Linked DNA regions of Homo sapiens. The protein of the gene in region 1 interacts with the protein of each later gene in a pairwise test. Each region holds a gene or a part of one and is shown in the gene's direction. Other genes may lie near its edges.

Region 1 (7,024 bases):
CAGGCTGGAGCGCAGTGGTGCGATCTCAGCTCACTGCAGCCTCCGCCTCCTGGGTTTGAGTGATTCTCCCACCTCAGTCTCCCAGGAAGCTGGAATTACAGGTGCACGCCACCACACCCAGCTAATTTTTGTATTTTTTGGTAGAGATGGGGTTTCACTATGTTGGCCAGGCCGGTCTTGAACTCTTGACCTCAAGTGATCCACCCGCCTCGGCCTCCCAAAGTTCTGGGATTACTGGTGTGAGCCACCGCGCCCGGCCTTGTTTTGTTTTAAGACAGGGTCTCACTGTCGCTCAGGCTGGATTGCAGTGGCACAATCACAGCTCACTGCAGCCTCGACCTGCTAGACTTAAGCAATCCCCCCACCTCAGCCACCTTAGTAGCTGGGACTTACAGGCATGAGAGATACCATGCCTGGGTAATTGTTAAGTTTTTGTAGAGGTGAGGTCTCACTATATTACCCAGGCTGGTCTCAAAGTCCTGAGCTTAAGTGATCCTCCTTCCTTGGCCTCCTAAAGTGCTGGGATTACAGGAGTGAACTGCCGTGCCTGACCAGTCTGTTTTGTTTACGATTGTATCCTCAGCGGTTAGAACAATGCCTGCCACAATCCATCTCAGTAAATATTTGTGGAGTGAGTCATAACATGGGCCACACTGTACCGTGCCACCAGCCCAAAGATCTCTTAAAGTCACCCCTGTCTCATGTGCTTGGGAGCTCCAGTGACAGTTTCGGGGCAGTTTGCTTCCAGCTGTGGTCCAGCCAAGCGGAGTGAATGAAAGAGATGCTTTTTCCTTTTGTGAAAGGACGTTTTGCTCTGGCTCACGTGAGCAGCAGTGCATTTTGAGACGAGGGCCTTGGCTTTTGGAATCTAAGAGCCTGTTGAGCAAGCCTCGCTCAGCCACCTTCTTTCAGCTTTCTCCTGAAGGCAGTTTGAGGATTAAGAGCCTGATGCTCTGGATTCCACCTAATTGGGTTCAGATCCTGGCAAACTGTGTAACCTGTGCCCCAGTTTCCTGTGTAATGTGGAGAGACCTGGACCTTTTCTTACAGGTGTTTGGAGGGTTAAATGTGGCAATTCGGCCGGGCGCAGTGGCTCATGCCTGTAACCCCAGCACTTTGGGAGGTGGAGGTGGGCGGATCACCGGAGGTCAGGAGTTCAAGACCAGCCTGGTTAACATGGTGAAACCCCGTTTCTACTAAAAATACAAAAAATTAGCCGAGTGTGGTGGTGCGCGCCTGTAATCCCAGCTAGTCTGGAGACTGAGGCAGGAGAATCGCTTGAACCCGGGAGGCAGAGGTTGCAGTGAGCCAAGATCACGCCATTGCACTCCAGCTTGGGCAACAAGAGTGAAACTCTGTCTCAAAAAAAAAAAAAAAAAAAAAGTGGCAATTTACCCGAAACTGTGGTGAAGCGTCTGGCGCCCTGTGGGTGCTGGGCAGCAGTGGGTGCTGATGGGGTGTGAGGGGATGGGATCAAGCCCTTTCCCACTAACTTAGGAAAGAGGTTGGAATGAGCTGGGGTCAGAGGGAACATTTGCGGGGACATTTTGCCGGGAGGCTGCCTTGGAGGTTCAGAGGCTCAGATGACCCCTGTGTTCATTCAGTGTTTTCTCACCCACAGATTGAGCACCTGCTGTGTGGCCAGCCCTTTGCCTAGTGCTGTTCAAGAGTCAGAGGACATAGGCAGGCAATCCCCCACCACAACCTGCCACCCCATTTCCTCTCTTGGGGCCTTGATTTCTCCACATGCCAAACAGGGAGAATGATTGCACCTTCCTTGTTTCTTTTTTTTTTTTTTTGAGACAGTCTCACTTTGTCATCCAAGCTTTAGTGCAGTGGCATGATCTCGGCTCACTGCAGCCTCTGCCTCTCGGGTTCAAAGATTCTCCTGCTTCAGCCTCCCAAGTAGCTGTGATTATAGGCACCCACCATCACGCCAGGCTAATTTTTTTTGTAGTTTTAGTAGAGATGGGGTTTTTTTCTCACACGTTGGCCAGGCTGGTCTTGAACTTCTGACCTCAGGTGATCTGCCCATCTCACCCTCCCAAAGTGCTGGGATTACAGGTGTGAGCCACCGCGCCCGGCTGCGCCTTCCCTGTTTCTTTGTGAGCTTGGAGGTGGATCACAAGTGTGAAACCCTTTGCCAACCGTGAGGCATGGTGGCCTTGTGAGAGGACGGAGGCCGGTGTGTGGTGGCATGCTCCCGTGCTGTGTGGCACAGACGGAGCTACAGGAAGGAAGTTGGGGCAGCTTGGCACTCTGAGTGGACCCTGAGTTTCCAGCCTGCTCTGTCTTGACTGGGTGGGAGGAGGGTGCTCAGGAGGGTGTCACTGCTGCCAGGTTCTGCTGCCAGGACCATCCAACAGTTGTTCCAATCATGGGACATCCTGTCGTCAGCAGCTGGGGCTCGTGAGGCCTGATTTCCACCTCGGGCAGTTCTGTGTGTGCTCCTGGAATCCCCCACGTGGCCAAGCCTGTGAGGTCTGCTTCCTGGCCTGCTGCCTGTGGGTTCCTGTCACGCACCTCTCGGGCAGCTGTCCGGCTCCTCTGCTCTCGGCTTAGTCAAGAAGGAAGCAGAAGGCTTGGAGTCTTTCCTGCTTGGACTAGGAGTGAGCTCAGCCTAAGTGCCCTGACTATATATAAAGCTGAACTTTCCAGACCGAAGCCTGGGGATGGATCAGTCCGATCACTTAGGGCCGCTCCTGAAGGAGTGCAGGTGCTAGATACAGGTTCTCCCGGTGGAGGAGCGAACCCCTTGTGGGCCGTTAGCTACTGGTGGGATTTGAGCATGGTATTTCCCTATCCGTTGTGGAGAGGAGCATGGCAGCTCAGAGTGGGTGGGAACAGTGTGTGGTCCCTGTTATCACCTTCAAGGGAATAAAGTGTGTCTGGGGGCTTCAGAGGTGCTGGCCCCATGGGCTTATAGGTGGTTCATTCATTCATTCTCATTCATTCATTCACCAAACTTATTAAACACCCACTGTGAGTCAGGAACATCATGCCAGGTGCTTAGGGAAACAAATCAAAGCGGGTTGGGTGAGCAGCCCAAGCCAACAGATGCACCCCCATTCTCACATGGTGTGTGTTCCTGTGGGCTGGGCCCTGGGTGGTGTGGGGTGCTGGGGAGAAGAGGAAGGCACACCAGGCTGCAGGGCGGAGGTGCGGGTATGAATTTTCAGAGGAGATGGCACCTGAGCTGTATCTTCATGGATAAGAAGAGATTTGTTCATTTGTCCTTTGTGGAGCACACATTCAGGTTAAGAAAGTGGGGAGGATGGGCTACGCTGATGGAGCGTATGTGTGGTATCCCCAAGTGCACTGAGACACGAGTTTGACGTGTTCTGGGAAGATCGATGGTGCGGCGTGGCTGGAGTAGAGGTGAGGGATGAGTTGGAGGGGTGAGTTGGGCCAGCTCTCATGGATGCTGGAGTCTGGGCTTTCCCTGGGAGGTCATGGGGCGCCACTGGCCAGGGTCAGCAGGGAGACCTGCAGCTGGATTTGCATCGTACAGTGGGCATGGAGGGGTGTCAGGCTGGGTTGGGAACCGTGCAGGCTGGAAGGGCACTCTGGTGCTCTGAGCATTCAGAGGGGGCAGCTGGGCCTTGAAGGATGAGCAGGGGCTCCAGCAGGAACTGGAGAGCGCATTCCAGGGAGGACGCAAGTGCAGGCCCCTTTCACTACAGAAAAGCAGTTTTCACACAGACCTTCCAAAGGGGAGGAGAGGGGACTGCCTGGGCCTGGCAGCTGCGGCAGGTAGCAGCAATCAGAGGGCAGGGACCGCTCCTCCCGTGCCTGAGACCTGCCCAGGGTCCTTCAGGGAATTCGTAGCTGAGGAGGAACCAGATTTTTGGGACTGAGTTCTCCCTCACCACCCGCTCTGAGCCACCCTCTTGGTCCCTTGTCCTCTACTGCACTTCTTCCGGGGCTTGGCTCCTCGTCATGAGAGGAGCTTCCCTGGGCATGGCGAGGGGCGTGACTGACATAGCAGCCCTGGACAAGTGGCTCCAGGTGACCTGTGTTCACGTTGATCACAGCACTAACCACGGCCCCTCCTCTCAGCACCTTCCCCTCTCGAGCCGTCCAGTCCCAGTGAAAATGCTCACCGTTCATGGGTGGGCTGAGCAAGCCCCTGATCTCTGCCTTCCTCCGTGTTCTGATCTGCTTCATCTGCTGTGAAGGCCTCTCGCCATTTCCCCCGCTGGCAAACTCCTGTTCTTCCTGGAAAGTTCAGCTAAAAAGTCATCCCCTTTAGGGGTCCTTCCCTCAGGGGACCGTGCACTTGGCGAGACAGGGACTGGTCTTGGGTCTCTCTGTTGACTGTTTTATGAACCCAGGTAGTCACTTCCAGGGAACTCATCAGAGATGCTACCATTGGCTCCAATCTCCCTCTGTTCCCACTCGAGGTTTTTTGTTTCTTCGTTTGTTTTTCTTTCTTTCTTTTTTTTTGAGACAGAGTCTCGCTCTCGCCCAGGCTGGAGTGCAGTGACATGATCTCGGCTCACTGCAAGCTCCGCCTCCCGGGTTCACGCCATTCTCCTGCCTCAGCCTCCCGAATAGCTGGGACTACAGGCACCCGCCACCACGCCCAGCTAATTTTTTTTGTATTTTTAGTAGAGACGGGGTTTCACCATGTTAGCCAGGATGGTCTCAATCTCCTGATTTCGTGATCCGCCCGCCTTAACCTCCCAAAGTGCTGGGATTACAGGCGTGAGCCACTGCGCCCAGCCCGTTTGTTTTTGTTTTTTGGTGGACATCAACTTTAATTTGCCCTTTGTTTTGTTTTGTTTTTGAGGCAGGGTCTTGCTCTGTCTCCCAGGCTGGAGTGCAGTAGTGCAATCTTGGCTCACTGCAGTCTCGACCTCAAGAGGATCAAGCAATCCTCTTGCCTTAGCCTCCCGAGTAGCTGGGACCACAGGCGCACACCACCATGCCCAGCTAATTTTATTTTATATTTTGTAGAGACAGGGTTTTGCCATGTTCCCCAGGCTGGTCTCAAATTCCTGGGCTCAAGCAATCCGTCTGCCTCAGCCTCCCAAAATGCTGGAATTACAGGCACGAGCCACTGTGCCCGGCCTTAATTTGCCCTTTGAACATGTACAATTCAGGGCCTCTCTGGGCCTCAGTTTCTTGATCTCTGAGATGGGAAGATGGGATAATAATACTTGTTCCTCCCGTCCTTCAGCTCCTCCAGGGGACCCTCACACCAGCACACTCTCTGTCAGTCTTCCCTCAATGAACCCAGCAGGCAAGCTTGGTTTTGACAGAGGATGGGTGAGCAGAGATAAGGAAAACGGCCAGAAATATCTGGCTTCCCTCAGCAGGGGCACCAAAATTGGTACCTGGAAATTGCCTGGCTTGGACAGGCAGAATTGTCACTGTCAACCCCCACCACCAAAGGTCTTGGGTCTTTGTCTTTCTGCTTGTGGTGTTTGAGAGAGCTGCTTGACACAGCCGAGGTGCGGTCTGTGTCAGGTGACCTGGGCATCCTGGGGGTGCAGGGAGAAGCCCAGGTAAGGAGGAGGAGGGGCCGGTCATCAGTGGGGAAAAGTGATTGTCTACCCCACGGGAAGGTCAAGGGTAGGACGCTGTGAGAAGCCAGGGGGAGAGATGAAGTGAGGCATGATGCGGGGGGCCCTCATCCACCATCCCCCTCTTGCAGCTGTGCTGGGAAGAGCCTAGGCTCCAGGGTCCAAGGTGGCAGGGACAGAAGGAAGCACGTGTGAGCACTTTCTCCCTGCTGGCCCGCCTTCCTGGTTGGCAATGCCGTGAGTGTTCCAGGATGTGGCCCCGTGGCTGTCATTTCCTTTCTTCCACCTAGTGATAACAATGGCCACTGTTTGTGTGCCCACAGTCGGCCTGTGTCCCAGACACCTTCCCTCCATTGCGTCATCTCGTCCTCCTGCCTACCCTGAAGGCTGGATGCCAGCCAAGCCTGTCGTTTCTGTGGCCATGCTGTCGTGGGTGTGTGGGGGGCATCCCCTAGCCCCAGGCTCTGGTGGGGGGTACACAGGCTGGGCCATTGACGAAGGGGTGTGTGGAATCTTTCTTTGATTTCACTGCACCCCTGGTGACTTTCTCCCTCAATCTGAGGCTCATGGGTGCTGGATGCTCTTGACTCTCTGCCCTTCCTGGGCGCACCCCTCCGCGTCCCTGTGGGCCCGTCCTCGGGGTAGCCTCTCTGCGCTCTTCCAGGCCAGGCCTGAGTCCCACAGGTCCCCATCTTCCCGGCTGCAGCCCCCAGAGGCTCAGCCTATACTGCTACTTCCTTTGAAAACTATAATCGCTTTACATAGCATCTGGAAAATAGGGAAAAGGAAAAAACAAAAGCCCATAAACCCAGCACCCTCATCTACTCAATGGCATGTTTTCTGTCAGTCTATCTTGGTTTGTTTTCTATCAGGCTTTGTTTTTTCTATGCATAATATTTACTCAGTTAAATTTTTGTTTTGACAAACTTTCTGTGAGCCAAGCTTGTGGACGGAGATGAAAAGACGAGCAGCTGCCTTTGAGAAACTCAGACTCTGGGCCAGCCCATCTGGGTGCCAGCTTTCACTGCTCCACCCACTAGCTGGGTGACCCTGGGCCCGTGACTTTACCCCTCTGTTCTTTGGTGTTCTCATATGTAAAATGAGGATAATAATAGTAACCAGTTCATAGAGTGGTTGTCAGACAGAATGATTAATGTACGTAAAGCTTTCAGGATGGTGCCAGCAAGATGCACAGGAGTGTTTGGTAGGAGGATGACGAAGCTTACCGTCTGGCAGGAGGGGCAGTTGTAACATGCTGGGCTGTGATAGTACAGATGTGTTTAAAGTGAGGGAGAGCCCAGAGCAAGGAGAGAGAACCTGGCATCTGGTGATGGTGTATCAAGAACATTTTAGGCCAGACACGGTGACTCACACCTGTAATCCCAGCACTTTGAGAGGCTGAGGCAGGCAGATCGCTTGAACCCGGGCGTTCGAGACCAGCCTGAGCAACGTGGTAAGACCCTGTCTTTATAATTTTTTTTTTTTTTTTTCTGAGA
Region 2 (7,024 bases), on another chromosome or scaffold:
TTGTTATTTTGCCAGATTTATAAGCAGATATTTGTGAGATTCTTATTCTTAATGATTACAGAGATGCAAATCTGTCTTCAGGGGAAAAAATCCATTGCTCAGTTGCTCAGTTATTTTGAGGAATTGGTACTTTCATGAGTACCAGTAGAGTAGTGCCATATCCTGTCCTGTGTGTTCATTATGTCTGTAGCTAACTCTGGAAGCATTTGCATTATTCTCCTAGAACCTGATGACCACCTCACAGTGGCTGAGTCACTGAAGAGGGAATTTGACAACCCGGACACTGCAGACCTGAAGTTTCTAGTTGATGGAAAGTACATTTATGCACATAAAGTCCTTCTCAAGATTCGGTAAGGAATCATTTATTTGAGAATTGAGAAAAGTAATTCGTTCAACAATTATATTCTAAGTGTCCAACTATATTAGGCACCTCAGTAATCAAGAAAAATTGTAAGGCTGTTTTTGCTCTTACAAGCATACAGTGGAGCGGGGAGAAATATACATGAAACAAGAAATAACACAGGTTGTGTGGTTCCGGGAACCAGTACCATAGGCGTTCCTTAGGCTTGAAAAGTGGCGTGGTCACCTTGGCAGCAGGGAGCAGCCAGCGCACGCTCCAAGTGTGTCCTGTGCTCTGAACACTGTATTGATACTTGGACGTCCATCAGTTACCGTTTCTGCCTGGGAATCAAGCTCAGCTCTTAATAATCACCTTCTTATAATCACTTGTGGCGTACTTTTAGATGGTTTAAGAAAGAGAAGATCAAGGCCTTTCCAGACCAAAAAGGTCTATAGTGAGGCTAGCACAGAGATTTTAAAAAATCACATTTGTGAATGTTTTTGAGCAATGAGCTGTGTGCATTTCAAATGTGCAGTTTGATGAGTGCTGACACATGTCTACGCCTGTGAAACCACTGCCCCACATCCAGACAGAGAACATTCCCATCACCCTTCAAAGACCCCTCATGTCCTAGCCCTGGGTGACCGCAGCTCCTTCTGTCACTGTAGCTGAGTTAGCATTTTCTAGAGTGTATTTAGATGGGATGATACAGGATGCATTCATTTGTGCTTGGCTTCTTTCTTTTACATGATGATTTTGAAATTCATTATGTTGTTGTGTAACAGATATTTAAATCCTACTGCAGTGAGTCACACACTCAACACAGCATTTTAGTCTCAAGTTCCTCTTTAGTAAGATCAAGCTGTGCAGCGTTTGCTCACTCTCTCTATATCACATCAACCTGCATGAAAGAAGGGGGGTGGATTTGTTTGCTGTAACACAGTACTATGGCCCGGGTGGCTTAAGCAACATAAAGTTCTGGAGGCTGGAAATCCCAGATCAAAAGTGTCACCTGGATGGGTTTCTTGTGAGGCTGTGAGTGAGAATCTGTTCCTGCCTCTTTCCTAGCTGCTGGGGATTTGCAGACAGTCTTTGGCCTTCCTTGGCATGTGGCTGCTTAACTCCAGTCAGCATGTGGCATTCTCCCTTTGTGCATGTCTGTGTCCAAATTTCCCCCCACCTTATTTTTTTTAGATGGCAGAGTCTTTCTCTATTGCCCAGGCTGGAGTGCAGTGGCCTGATCTCGGCTCACTGCAACCTCCTCCTCCCAGGTTCAAGTGATTCTCCTGCCTCAGCCTCCTGAGTAGCTGGGATTACAGGCGCACACCACCATGCCTGGCTAATTTTTGTATTTTTAGTAGAGATGGGGTTTCACCATATTGGCCAGGCTGGTCTCAAACTCCTGACCTCGTGATCCACCCGCCTCGGCCTTCCAAAGTGCTGGGATTACAGGCGTGAGCCACCGCGCCCTGTCCAAATTTCCCCTTTTTATAAAGATGCCAGTCATATTGGATTAGGGCCCACCCTAGTGACCTTCTTATAACTTGATTACCTCTTTAAAGGCTCTCTTTCCTAGTAAGGTCACATTTTGAGGTATTGGCCATTAGGACTTCAACACAGGAATTTTTAGAGGACATCATTCAACCCGTAATGGAGTGAGGAAACAGAATTACTTAGATTTTATAAAAATAAACCCACTGATTTCTCTAAATGCTGACAGTGGTTGTGGTGTGAGAGAGATGCCAGGGAGCCCAGCTCTGTCCCCATTAGCACGGCCATTGGGGCTGCTTCCCAGGCCACCCCTGGCAGCAGGTTTGTATATACAGCCTTGCTGAATAGATGATTGTTTGAAAACCCTGGCCAGCAAAGAAAGTGAGGAGCCACAGCAGGGACGTGCCAGCGTGCACCTTCGAGAGAAGAACGTGGTCCTCACAGAGGCCATCTGTCCTGGCTGGGAAGCTAGGACCTGACATACTGCTTTTTTCCTTCAGATGTGAGCATTTTCGTTCGTCATTGGAAGATAACGAGGATGATATTGTAGAAATGAGTGAATTTTCATATCCTGTTTACCGGGCCTTCCTGGAATACCTATACACAGACAGCATCAGCCTTTCTCCTGAGGAGGCAGTAGGTAATTGCCAAAGACTTCCAAAAACTTGGCAAAATGTTGAGGAACTGACAAGGTGGTTTCTATAGAACCTAAAAGAAAGTCACTGTGAGGGTAATTACAGAAGTATTTCTTTTTGTGTGTGTTGAATCCAAACACGTTTCCCTTGTTACTACTTTATTACAAAGGTTGACTGGACAGATAAGAGAGAGAAGAATCAAATCATCACCACCGTGGAGCATTGCAGGCAGCAGCATGGAGGAAGGGACAGAGACTGAGGGCCATGCAGCAGATCCCCGTGTCTCCACCAGCAGGGCCCAGGAATTCCACTTATTTCAGACTGTGGGCCTGAGTCAGTCAAGTCTGTGCCCAGTGGCTTAGGAGGCTGGGAAAATGGGCATTTCCAGAGGGCCGTAGCTTGGCTAAAAATTCTGTGGTTTCAGTAGAAAGGAAGAATGGATGTGTGTGTGTGTGTGAGAGAGAGAGAGAGAGAGAGAGAGAGTGTGTGTGTGTGTGTGTGTGTGTGTGTGTGTTGGGGTGGGGGTCGGGAGAGAGGCAACTAGCAGCTTCTGCCACAGGAGAGATGTGATCTGTGTTTAAAACATCAGTTATTATATTGGTTCAGGTGTGAGATGATGGTCTCCTGGGTTGGGGTTGTATAGCAGTGGAAGTATTGAAAAGAGATCAGATTCTAGATATATTTTAAAGAGGTTGCTGATGGGATTTGTTGATAGATGGGATGAGAGGTGTGAGTTGAGAGAGAAGGATGGCTGCACTGAGGTACTTGGCCTGGGTAGCTGCCTTAATGGCACTGAGGTGAGGAAGATAGAGAACAACAGGCTTGCTCTGGACTTTGAAAGTCAAAGGAGTTTGAGCTTCCCATTAGATACCCAAGTGATAATTTTTTTTTTTTTGAGACAGAGTTTCACTCTTGTTGCCCAGGCTGGAGTGCAATGGCACGATCTCCGCTCACCACAACCTCCGCCTCCCGGTTTCAAGCGATTCTCCTGCCTCAGCCTCTCGAGTAGCTGGGATTACAGGCATGCACCACCACGCCTGGCTAATTTTGTATTTTTAGTAGAAACGAGGTTTCTCCGTGTTGGTCAGGCTGGTCTTGAACTCCCGACCTCAGGTGATCCGCCCATCTTGGCCTCCCAAAGTGCTGGGATTACAGGCGTGAGCCACTGCGCCCGGCCGCGAGTGGCAGTTTTTTATCGGCCCACCACTAACATTTGTGGGGCTGTAGCCAAGACTCCAAATGGAGACCTATGTTCCATATGTCTAAAAACTTAAAGTTATATGTCAAGCTAGTGAACTTCAGATAAAAATATGTCCAATCCTCCCACCTTGAAAAATGTAATTTCATTAAGAACTGAAAGGACAGGTTTCAATTTTAGTTGACATTTAGAGTTGCAGGACTTCTTGTGCCAGAACCCAATGGCACAGGCAGGACAGACCCCTCCTCCAGCAGAAGGGTGTGTGGGCACCCTAGCTTGCATTCCAAGCTCTATCCACCCCCAACCCAGGTTACCCTTTTGGGCCAGGGGGTCTGCACATTGGTGGTGGGGTCTAAGGGAGGAAATACCCACACATGTGGCCTCAAGGCCAATTATGCAGGCAGTCCCAGGTTCCCAGGTACCCAAAGTGTGGTCTAGAAGTGGGCATGTGGCTCCTTAGCCACCCTGTGCTGAAGGTGTGCGTGGAGGAGGCGCAGAGCTGGGGCTTGGGGCAGAGTCCTCTCTTAGGGCAGTGCAGCTTGCATGTGTGTCTGAAGCTTGGGGCCAAAAACAATGAAGCCATTCACAACTCAAGATTTCAGTGTCCTCCAGTGGGCTATCTGTCTTTCCTCTATAACTTTGATAATATTTGTTATTAAAAAAGCAAGTTTCCAACCAAAGTCTACCACATGTATAAGATTTATTAGCAGATAGACACAAAAACAATTAATATGGTAAAATTGATGAAATCCCTGCTCTTTATACTTCGTACACTCTATTAAGTACCTTGCATGAAAAGTTAGCTTGAGGTGGACATGACAGTGTTCTAGTAGCCGGATTCAGCTAGCCTTTTGATCCTGGCTACCACTCATTTCAGCAATGACAAACTAATTCTGACATTCTTTATGCTAATTACAAATCCTGTAATGAAGATTCAGAAAAACAAATAGGATCTTTCAGATGCTGATTGACTGCTTCAATTAGAGTACTTCCTATCATTCCTTGGGGTAGATTAAAATTAATTTACATATGTCACCTCACCCAGTCTACGTTGAATTACTTGAAAATAGGTGACAGGTAATATAACAGGACTCACCTGCATATATAGATGATATTTAAAACCCTGGGGCTGGGGTTTTGGGAAGTAAGTGAGGAAAGTGTCTGAGGATTTAACCCTGGGGCACTCAAACATTTGGAAGTCAGGAAAAATGATCCAGCCTAGAGAACTGAGGAGCAACTAATTAAAGAGAAGAAAAATGCAAGCAAGTGACAAAGTGTCCTAAGGAGAGCATTATCAACCATATCAAATTCTGTGTAAATGTCGAGTAAGAGGAAACCAGAGAATATTGCACCCTCAAAGCCACTGTGACTGCCACAGGTGTGACCACCAAGGGTGTGACTGCAGTAGTGGTGGGGATGGGGTTCTGCTTGTAATGGCTTGAGGTCAGAATGGGAGGTGGGAAAATGGAGACAGCAGATACAGATAGCTCTGTCTAGGAGTTTTGCTGTAGAGAGGAGCAGTGGGATAGGGTAACAGGAGGAAGACACGTGTCCATGAAAGGGTCTCCCCTCCCCTCCTCTCCCCTCTCCTCCTCTCCCCTCCCCTCCTCTCCCCTCCCCTCCTCTCCCCTCCCCTCTTCTCTTCTCCCCTCCCTTCCCCTCCCCTCCCTCTCCTGTCCTCTCTTCTTTTCTTCTCTTTTGTTTTCTTTTCTTCTTTTCTTTTCTTTCTTTTCACGGCGGGCACTCTTACAGCATGTGTGTGTGCTCCTGGGAGTGGCCCAGGAGAAGCTGACATTGAGATTGCAGGGGAAGGGGTCATTCAAGGCGCACATGCTTTTTTCCTAGGAAAAAAATATTAAAGCTATTTTCCCTGTGCTCCTGTTTTTCAACAGCTAATGATTTGTGTATCATGTTTGCTCAGCTTGGCTGCCATCCTGGGTAGAGCCCCACACTGAAGTGTAAGTGTCAGTCAGCATCAGTCTATGCAGTGCTTCACTGAGGATTATATCTAAAATAGTGTCAAAATCATCTCTGAGTGGCTGAGTGAGCAACTGTAAATCAGGATGCTTGAAATCACTCCCCCTAATAAACACCTCTTTCCGCCAGGACTGCTAGACTTGGCTACATTTTATAGAGAAAATCGTTTGAAAAAGCTCTGCCAACAAACTATCAAGCAAGGCATCTGCGAGGAGAATGCCATCGCTCTGCTCTCGGCTGCGGTGAAGTATGATGCACAGGTAAGGAAAGCTTGCTTCCAGCTGCCGGCCTCCTGGAGAAATGGAACCCAGGTGTCTGCCTCGTACCTTAAACTAAAAGAAAGTCTGGGTAGAGGAAATATTTAATATTTTTTAAAAAATGAAGTAACAAGAGTACTAGACAACGTATAAGCAAGTATTTATATAATGTTGGGATGGACATCAAAGGCAGAAGCCATAAAGGATTTATAGCTCTGATTTAAAAAGATAAGAAACTTTTATCCACTTAAAAATACCATAGAGAAACTTACAAAGTAATGAGACACTGGGAAAAATACTTGCAACATATAATGAAGTCTGTTTACCAGAGTGAAAAACAAAAAGACAATAGGAACAGTTTGGTTGAAAGAAATGGACCAAAGAACAAATGGCTCTATAAATAGACAAAAAACATAAATGAAAACAAGGTATAACTTTTCACCTGTCAAAGCAGGAATATATTTTTAGAGATAATGTATAGGATCAGAATAATGGTGTTCTCCTAAACTGCTGATGAGAGTACAAATTGGTATGGAGAACAATTTGGTATAATATGTATTAAGCACCTTAAATTAAAGACATAATTCTTCAAGGAATTCACTCACAAGTATTTATCTTGAGGAATTAATCATGGATTTGCACAAAGACTTAGCTTCAAAGGTGTTTACTTCAGCAGTTTATAATTTTGAAAAATCAGAAAAAGGTTAGTGTGAATAGTGGAGGCTTGTTTATAAAATGTTAATATCAAGAAATTATGCAGCTATTCAAGATATATCACTAAGTGAAAAACTTATCCTATTTTTATTTTTTGAAAAAGTATAAATAGCTGAATAAAAAACTAAAATTCATTATCTACATAGAAAAAAAGACTGAAAACTATGCTTAGTGGTTATCATTGAATGGTGGGATTGTGGGTGATTTTTATTTTCTTCTCTTTGCTTATTTTTTTTTAACTTTTACAGTGACCATGTATTGTTATGATAATAAAGAAAGGAAAGAAAACCAATCTTAGAACCAAATCTTTAGGAAACAGGCTGTAACATCTTCGAGTCAGTTTCCTTTTGGTATAAGGATATCCTCTCCTTTGGTCAAAGAAAACAGAGACATTTTAGTAGATGAAAGGTTA
Region 3 (6,966 bases), on another chromosome or scaffold:
CTACATTCCAGCCTGGGCAGCAGAGCGAGAGTCCGTCTTAAAAATAATAAATAAGGGCCGGGCGCGGTGGCTCACGCCTGTAATCCCAGCACTTTGGGAGGCCGAGGCGGGTGGATCATGAGGTCAGGAGATCGAGACCATCCTGGCTAACAAGGTGAAACCCCGTCTCTACTAAAAATACAAAAAATTAGCCGGGCGCGGCGGCGGGCGCCTGTAGTCCCAGCTACTCGGGAAGCTGAGGCAGGAGAATGGCGTGAACCCGGGAAGCGGAGCTTGCAGTGAGCCGAGATTGCGCCACTGCAGTCCGCAGTCCGGCCTGGGCAACAGAGCGAGACTCCGTCTCAAAAAAGAAAAAAAAAAAAAAATAATAATAATAATAATAAATAAATAGCGTTGTATGGCAGATGCACCTGACAGCAATAACTTTAAGCATACCCTGAGAATACCCTGTGGTCTAAGAAGAATGTGTGCTTGGAGCTAAGGAATCCGGGAATGGCCAAGGCGAATATTCACTCCTTATCTGTGGAGCTGCTTGGGAGGCTGAGGCTGTAGAATTACGTGGGGCCCAGGAGTTCGAGGCTGCAGTGAGCTGTGATGGCACCACTGCTCTCCAACGTGGGTGACAGAGGGAGACCCTGTCTTGAAATAATAAAAATAAATAAATTATGCCCAGTTAGCCACTTGGGATCCATCTTGAAGGACTGGCTTTTTCAGGTTCACATTTGTTCACAAATGCAAACACACACACAACAATTCCTCATAATTTATATTAATAGATTTCTCTGAATGCCTCTTAGAGTTTACCATGCGCTGTGTGCTCTAAATGAATGTAACATTAAAAGTCAGATGATTTTTTTAGTTCAATTTGAATGGCAATTTTTGATGTTCTTAAATTGGTACAGAGCCATAATTCAGAATAGCGGTGCAAAGCTCACTGAGCACGTTCATGACCCTTGAAAGTCTTCGAAAACAGATTACTGGGCTTCGCTCCCAGAGAATGATTTCGTTTCTTAGGTTCTGTGGTGCAGGCAGGTTTGGAAATCACTTATCTAGAAGTCCTTAATGCTTTGTGAAACTTAAGGCCGCTCACTCCATCTACCATTTTCTCAGAGGGCAGCATAGTATTAATGGAAATGACCCGTTGCATTTTACTTCTTGCGTGCTGTTACCACCACTGCCTTTTACTCTCCTTTGAAATAATTAAAAGCACTGGGAAGGGAAAGCACTGGAGAATTTTACTAAACATAATCTGTTGCAATAAGGTGTAACTAAATAAAATGATAGAAAACTGTGCCTTTTAGAACAGGAATCAACTGCATGATCTGTGTGCTTTCCAAAAGTGTGGCTCACTCTTCTTTTGCAAAAGAAAACTACAAGGAATCTTGACAGGAAGTTGTTGGGTTTTTGTTTTTGTTTTTGTTAAGTAGTTAGTTCTACCAAATAGTTTTGCAAATAGACCCAGGCTTGACTGGCAATTAAACATGAAACTTCTCATTGGGTATTTTCGAGACTACTACGGGGAATCAGCTACCAGCTTACTGCCATGTGGAGAACTGCACGAGATTCCGGGATTGGAATCAAAATGCTAATTTAAAAGGTCAAGTGAAGCTGCTCCTCACGTTTTGGCGTGCCTGCGCTCTCTGCAGGCAGAAGCGAACAAAGACCCAGCAAGAGAAGGCAGAGGCTAAGACCCATCCCGTATCTGCTCTCCTGAAATAATTCTGGAGTCATGCCTGAAATGCCAGAGGACATGGAGCAGGTAAGAACTAGCAATTCAAGAAATGAAGCATTCTAGAGTAAGAGATGCTTTAAAAGCATTCCAGTGAACGCCTGCTAAAACCAGAATTGTTGTGTAAAGAAAATAGAAACGGGTGTCATTCATTTCCTTAAAACATAACCTCGGGACATGGAAGAATAAGCCAACTTTAGTTACTGACCCGGAGAACCAGGTTATGAAGGGCTCAGCTAAGTCTCACTAGCTGACAATACAGAATTGCACTTTCATTTACCATTTTAAATGCAATTATGTATATAAAGTTTCTACATAAATAAGGATTTTATCTGTAGTGTGTTCCTTTCCAGATGTTCTTTGTCTTTGTATGAATTGAATCTGCTAACATAACTTTTAGTTTCAGGCTGCTCTCTTTAAATGTATAGACTTAGCCACCACACGAAGTTGTATATTGTCTATGTTAAGAATGGCGTTTGATTCGCATAGACCCTACCATCATTAAAGAAAATGATTAAAAACCATATCCAAACATATGCCCCTAGAACTGTACCCAACTTTTACGGGGAAAGTATCAAGTCAGATTTTCAAAAGCAGCCAAGTTAAATTCTTTCTGTTCCTCAAGACTAGGCTGCTCTGAGAATCAGAATGCTAATTGCATATGCTTGCCCTTAAACCTGCTTCACGTTGAAGAATGAAGAATTAATTTTCTTTTCTCCCATAGAAAGGTAAGATTACATCACGTGTTGCGACTAGAAACTTTAAACCGAATTCCCAGTTAAGAGAAAAAGTAGTAAGATGATCTTGGCTGCTCCCCCGGCCCTCTTCCCGCCCTCTTCTTTGTTGTCCCCTGATTATGCTTGTTTAGCGCTGGGGCAGTCCTCAAGGATTCCCTAAATAAAGCCAAACTAATGAACAGTAATAGCCTGTGTTTAAAAAAAAAAAAAATCGGAACATAAGAAACCTCAGGCTGTCTTCGATTACTGTTCTAGAGAAACTTTATGTTTACACGAATAAGGAAATGAGTTTTTGTTGGGGGTTGAGGAGGAAGGAAAGTCATGGTGTTCTGACGTGGAAAACTTCTTTAAAAGGCTGCTTAGTCTTTAGTTTGAAAATAAACCAAAAAGGTTTAGGAGTCGGGGAAAGGCCCTAGGAAAATCCAGACAGTGGTCACGTTTGTGGACGACGTTTAGAGCTTGCTATCCTGGGCACACAAGAACCCTTGGACTGTTCGGTGCAAAGTTGGCAAATCCTACACGGCCTGTGCCAGGGTTTACTTTCTGCATCAATTTCACAGGCGTCCAGCCTGGCTGAGGATTTTTTGCGGTTTTTAACTGGAAGGGAAATAAGTCGGCATCAGCACTTAGGGCTGCTTAACTTTTAAAAGGTGGTAGAACGCCCAGCCTTACACGCTGCTGCTTAAATTCTCGGTGCTCACCAAGGCTGGGCTCGTGTGGCCCAATCCTGCAATCCCCGAGGCGGTGTTTCTTAAAGAGTGGGCTTGATTCTGGTTAAACCCATTAAGAAGTCGGACCCCGGGCTCGTTTCTTGTTCTGTAATTATGGGTAAAGTCCAAGGATCTGCGTTTTGAAGAGGTACCTAAGTAGTTCATCTTCCTTCCCCCTACAACTTTTTATTTTTAATTAGTTAAAAATAGTTTTACATTTTTGATATCTCACACACAGGTTTTTTCTTTTTTTAAGCATCCCAGGAAGACAAATGGCTCAGACGCCAACCCTTTTATTTTTATTCCTTGTCTTTTTCTAAATCTTTCAAAACCCCCACCTAGAGCTCTAGAGATGTGTCCATTATGCTCTACCCACCTCCGCCCCCGCCCCCATGACTTTAAAATGCTTTTTATTCCACTTTTTATATTGCTCAGTCGATCCTCATGCACTGCGCAGTCTGCAAACTTGAAACTCAAGGCGATCCACTTCAATCTTTTCCCGAGTCAAGAAAAAAAGGAAAAAAAGTAGAATAAAAAGCACTCAAATAAAATCTCCGAAACAAAACCTGAATTCACTGCCTAAGGTCAGGGCCTTTCTTTTGTGTGTCGCTTTAAGCATCGGCGCGTGGGCTGGGGGCAGACCGCGCGTACCCGCCCTCTTTCTGGGGCGTCGGCGGAGCGTGGCCAATCAACGGGCGCGGCTATGGCAGCGGAAGCCGGAAGCGGCGAGCGGGGTCGTTCTGGGCCTAGGGGAGGCGGGCCGAGGGCGTCTGAGCTGAGGCCCGCGTCGATCCTGGGTTGGAGGAGGTGGCGGCCGCTGAGGCTGCGGCGTGAAGACGGCGGGCATGGTGGGGCGGGAGAAAGAGCTCTCTATACACTTTGTTCCCGGGAGCTGTCGGCTGGTGGAGGTGAGGGAGTCGGCCTGGGCGTCTCCGGTGGGAGCGGGGGCGCCGAGGGGGACGAGCCACCGGGGCTCGGGCGGCTTTGCAGGCGTATTCCGCCCGGGTCAGAGCCTCCGGCCGGGAGTGGTCTCACCGCCACCCTCCCAGCCCCGGATCCGAGGGGGGCGCCACCGAGTTTGTTTATCTCAGCGCACACGGGTCAGTGTTTTTTTCTTCCAGCCACTGCGGCAGGAAGCAAGTAGGTGGAGGTTTTACTTTCGAGTTCTGTCTCTGCTCCTGAGGACGAAGAGGTTTTTCAGAATTGTTTGTTTTGATTTTGGTTTTCCCCGTTTATTCATCTTTGGTTCGTATTTCTCGATCTTACAAGTTCGTAGGTTTGAGAAAGAACAGGAAAAGGTGACTTCTCACAAATAACAGTGCTGGAGATGACAACTTATTGAACTCTTAAGTTCTCAGCACTATGTTATGCACTTGACGGGCATTACTTTAATCCTCCACTGTGAGATACTTGTTATTGCCTCATTTTGTAGACGAGAAAACGGGCATAGAGGGTGAGACATTGGCCCAGGTTCATTCCGTAAGGTTGGAGCCTGGAATTCAGATACAGGTTTGTGTGACTGTCTTGGGCTTTGAACCACTACGGAGTTTCCCTGAAGGAAGATTATGGTGATGATTGGAAGATCCATCTCTGGTGCCCCCCTCGCCCCCGTCCCATCCTGCTCCATTCCACTTAAGGGCCTCCAGCATTAATCTGTCCACAGAACATATCCAACCCTGGGGATAAGAACACTACTAATGCCCAGACCATGTCTTTTGGAGAGAGTAGAGAATATAGGAGATGGCTGTTTCTGTTATTGCAAAGTTTTCATGCTTCCAAATTTACTTAGGGTTTTCAAATCACTTTGGTTCTTTGAGGGTAAAGTTAGGATAAATGGTCTATTAAACCTCTATGTTCCTAGGTCCTCCAGACCGTGCTGAGTGCATGTTACATACGTTTACATTTATATGTATGCATTTGTATGTGTACGTGTGCATATAAAGCTTAATCTACTTTCACAAAAAGAAGTTCAGTATAAAAATGAAAATAGCTTTTCGTGTTTTCCTTCATTAAAAATGAAACAACGAAGAGCTTGGCACAGACTTACTGCTCTCAAAACCTGTAGAATTAAAGCTTACTGACTCATGAGAACGAGAACTGTCTCATAGTTAACGTTAGAGAAGCATCCTGGAGTGGTTGTTGTTAGTAATACTGTCTGTGGAGCACAGTAGCGTCGCAGTAGAAGTTAGACCAATCCCACCTAAGTAGTCAGAGAATCTTAAAAAGTAAAGCCCAGTAATGTTTACCTTAAGGGTCTGTTTCTGGGGAATTAAAAAATTAAACATGGAACTGTGCCAAGTTTTAAAGTTTCCAAAAACGACAAGGTATTTACCACTGAAATTTGGGAAAACCACATACTAATAGTATTCCATTCTTTACTTTTCTAGAACATTTTTAGTAGACATTAATGCAGGTGTGCTAAAGTAGAAATCACTGTCCCAGAGTACTGTGTTGGACCATTTGGAAGGAGCCATGTATCTCCCATTACCTATACAATTTGGTATCATTCGATTAGATACGATAATAAGAATATTTATTTATATGTACTTAATTTTTCAAGAAATGTTTTTTTGGTGTCCATAAATCTGGTCCCTTGGAGTGATTGAATTCCGTACTTCAGAGTTTAGACAATAAGAGGCAGATACGTTTAGAGTAACTTAAACTGATATTAGATCTACTTTCCCCCATATAATAAAAATTGAGAAAAAGTAGACTTCAGGCAAAGTATTATCAACTCTTTATTGTGCCTTGAGTGAACTAGATAGCATTTTATTCTTTCATTCTGACTTTCTTAAAGTGTTTAGACATTTCTTCCTTGTGCACAACTAAAATAATTTATGGAGTGCAGGTCCAAAGTAGTTTTTAGAGGGATATTTCTTTTTCTAAAGAACGAACCAAAAAGCCTCAACAAAACAGTGTAAAAGGCAGAGTATTGCTTATATAGAAGCTCAAAAACAGAGATATTTGTTTGGCATATTTTAAATTTCGGAGTAATGCATATTCAGAGGAAAAGTTACCTTATTTAAGTAAACGAAACTATTCGGACTCCTCGTGGTAGGGATAATATGGAAAATGTTAGAAATATAGAACTTTAAAGCTGAAAGAGCCTTAGTCATTTTGTCTAAATGCCTTCCCCATTTACCAATGAGGAATTAGATCAATAGAGATAGAATAACTTCTAAACACCAATTTGTGGCAGAACAGATAAAACTTTAATCATTCATGAAACCAAATATTAGTTCACAGGATTGAGACAAAATGCAGTGTATTTGACTTGACCAGAGAAGCAAGACTCAGGTTCTGGTTCCAGCTTTTTCTCTTTTACTATAGACAAAACATTTAACACTGGACTTCTTGTTACTCTCTTTGGAAATAATATCTCTTCTAACAAGCTGCTGGGTTTTTTTGTTTTCTTTTTTTTCCTCTTGCTCTTTCACCCCGTCTGAAGTGCAGTGGCTCAATCTCTGCTCACTGCAACCTCTGCCTCCAGGGTTCAAGCGATTCTCCTGCCTCAGCCTCCCAAGTAGCTGAGATTATAGGCGCCCACCACCATGCCCGACTAGTTTTTCTATTTTTGGTAGAGACAGCGTTTCACCATGTTGGCCAGGCTGGTTTTGAACCCCTGACCTCAAGTGGTTGGTCCACCTTGGCCTCCCAAAGTGCTGGGATTACAGGCGTGAGCCCTGGCACCCGGCCTCAAACTGCTATTAAAAAAACAAAAACAGCTATGATTGTATACTTATATAACACGTTAGTTTTCTTTTTTTTGGTTTTTTTGTTTGTTTGTTTT

Evidence for each region.
Region 2: the proteins of PLA2G6 (region 1) and RCBTB2 interact in binary tests that used the Homo sapiens proteins (3 or more experiments, as listed by UniProt).
Region 3: the proteins of PLA2G6 (region 1) and MAT2B interact in binary tests that used the Homo sapiens proteins (3 or more experiments, as listed by UniProt).

Annotation. Positions count from the first base shown.
Region 1 is NC_000022.11:38,171,818-38,178,841, reverse strand, and holds part of PLA2G6 (85/88 kDa calcium-independent phospholipase A2), read left to right. Parts: intron 1-7,024. UniProt on the Homo sapiens protein: Calcium-independent phospholipase involved in phospholipid remodeling with implications in cellular membrane homeostasis, mitochondrial integrity and signal transduction.
Region 2 is NC_000013.11:48,495,068-48,502,091, reverse strand, and holds part of RCBTB2 (RCC1 and BTB domain-containing protein 2), read left to right. Parts: intron 1-223; coding exon 224-350; intron 351-2,331; coding exon 2,332-2,471; intron 2,472-5,770; coding exon 5,771-5,901; intron 5,902-7,024.
Region 3 is NC_000005.10:163,501,666-163,508,631, forward strand, and holds the start of MAT2B (methionine adenosyltransferase 2 subunit beta), read left to right. Parts: upstream 1-3,953; 5' UTR 3,954-4,021; coding exon 4,022-4,084; intron 4,085-6,966.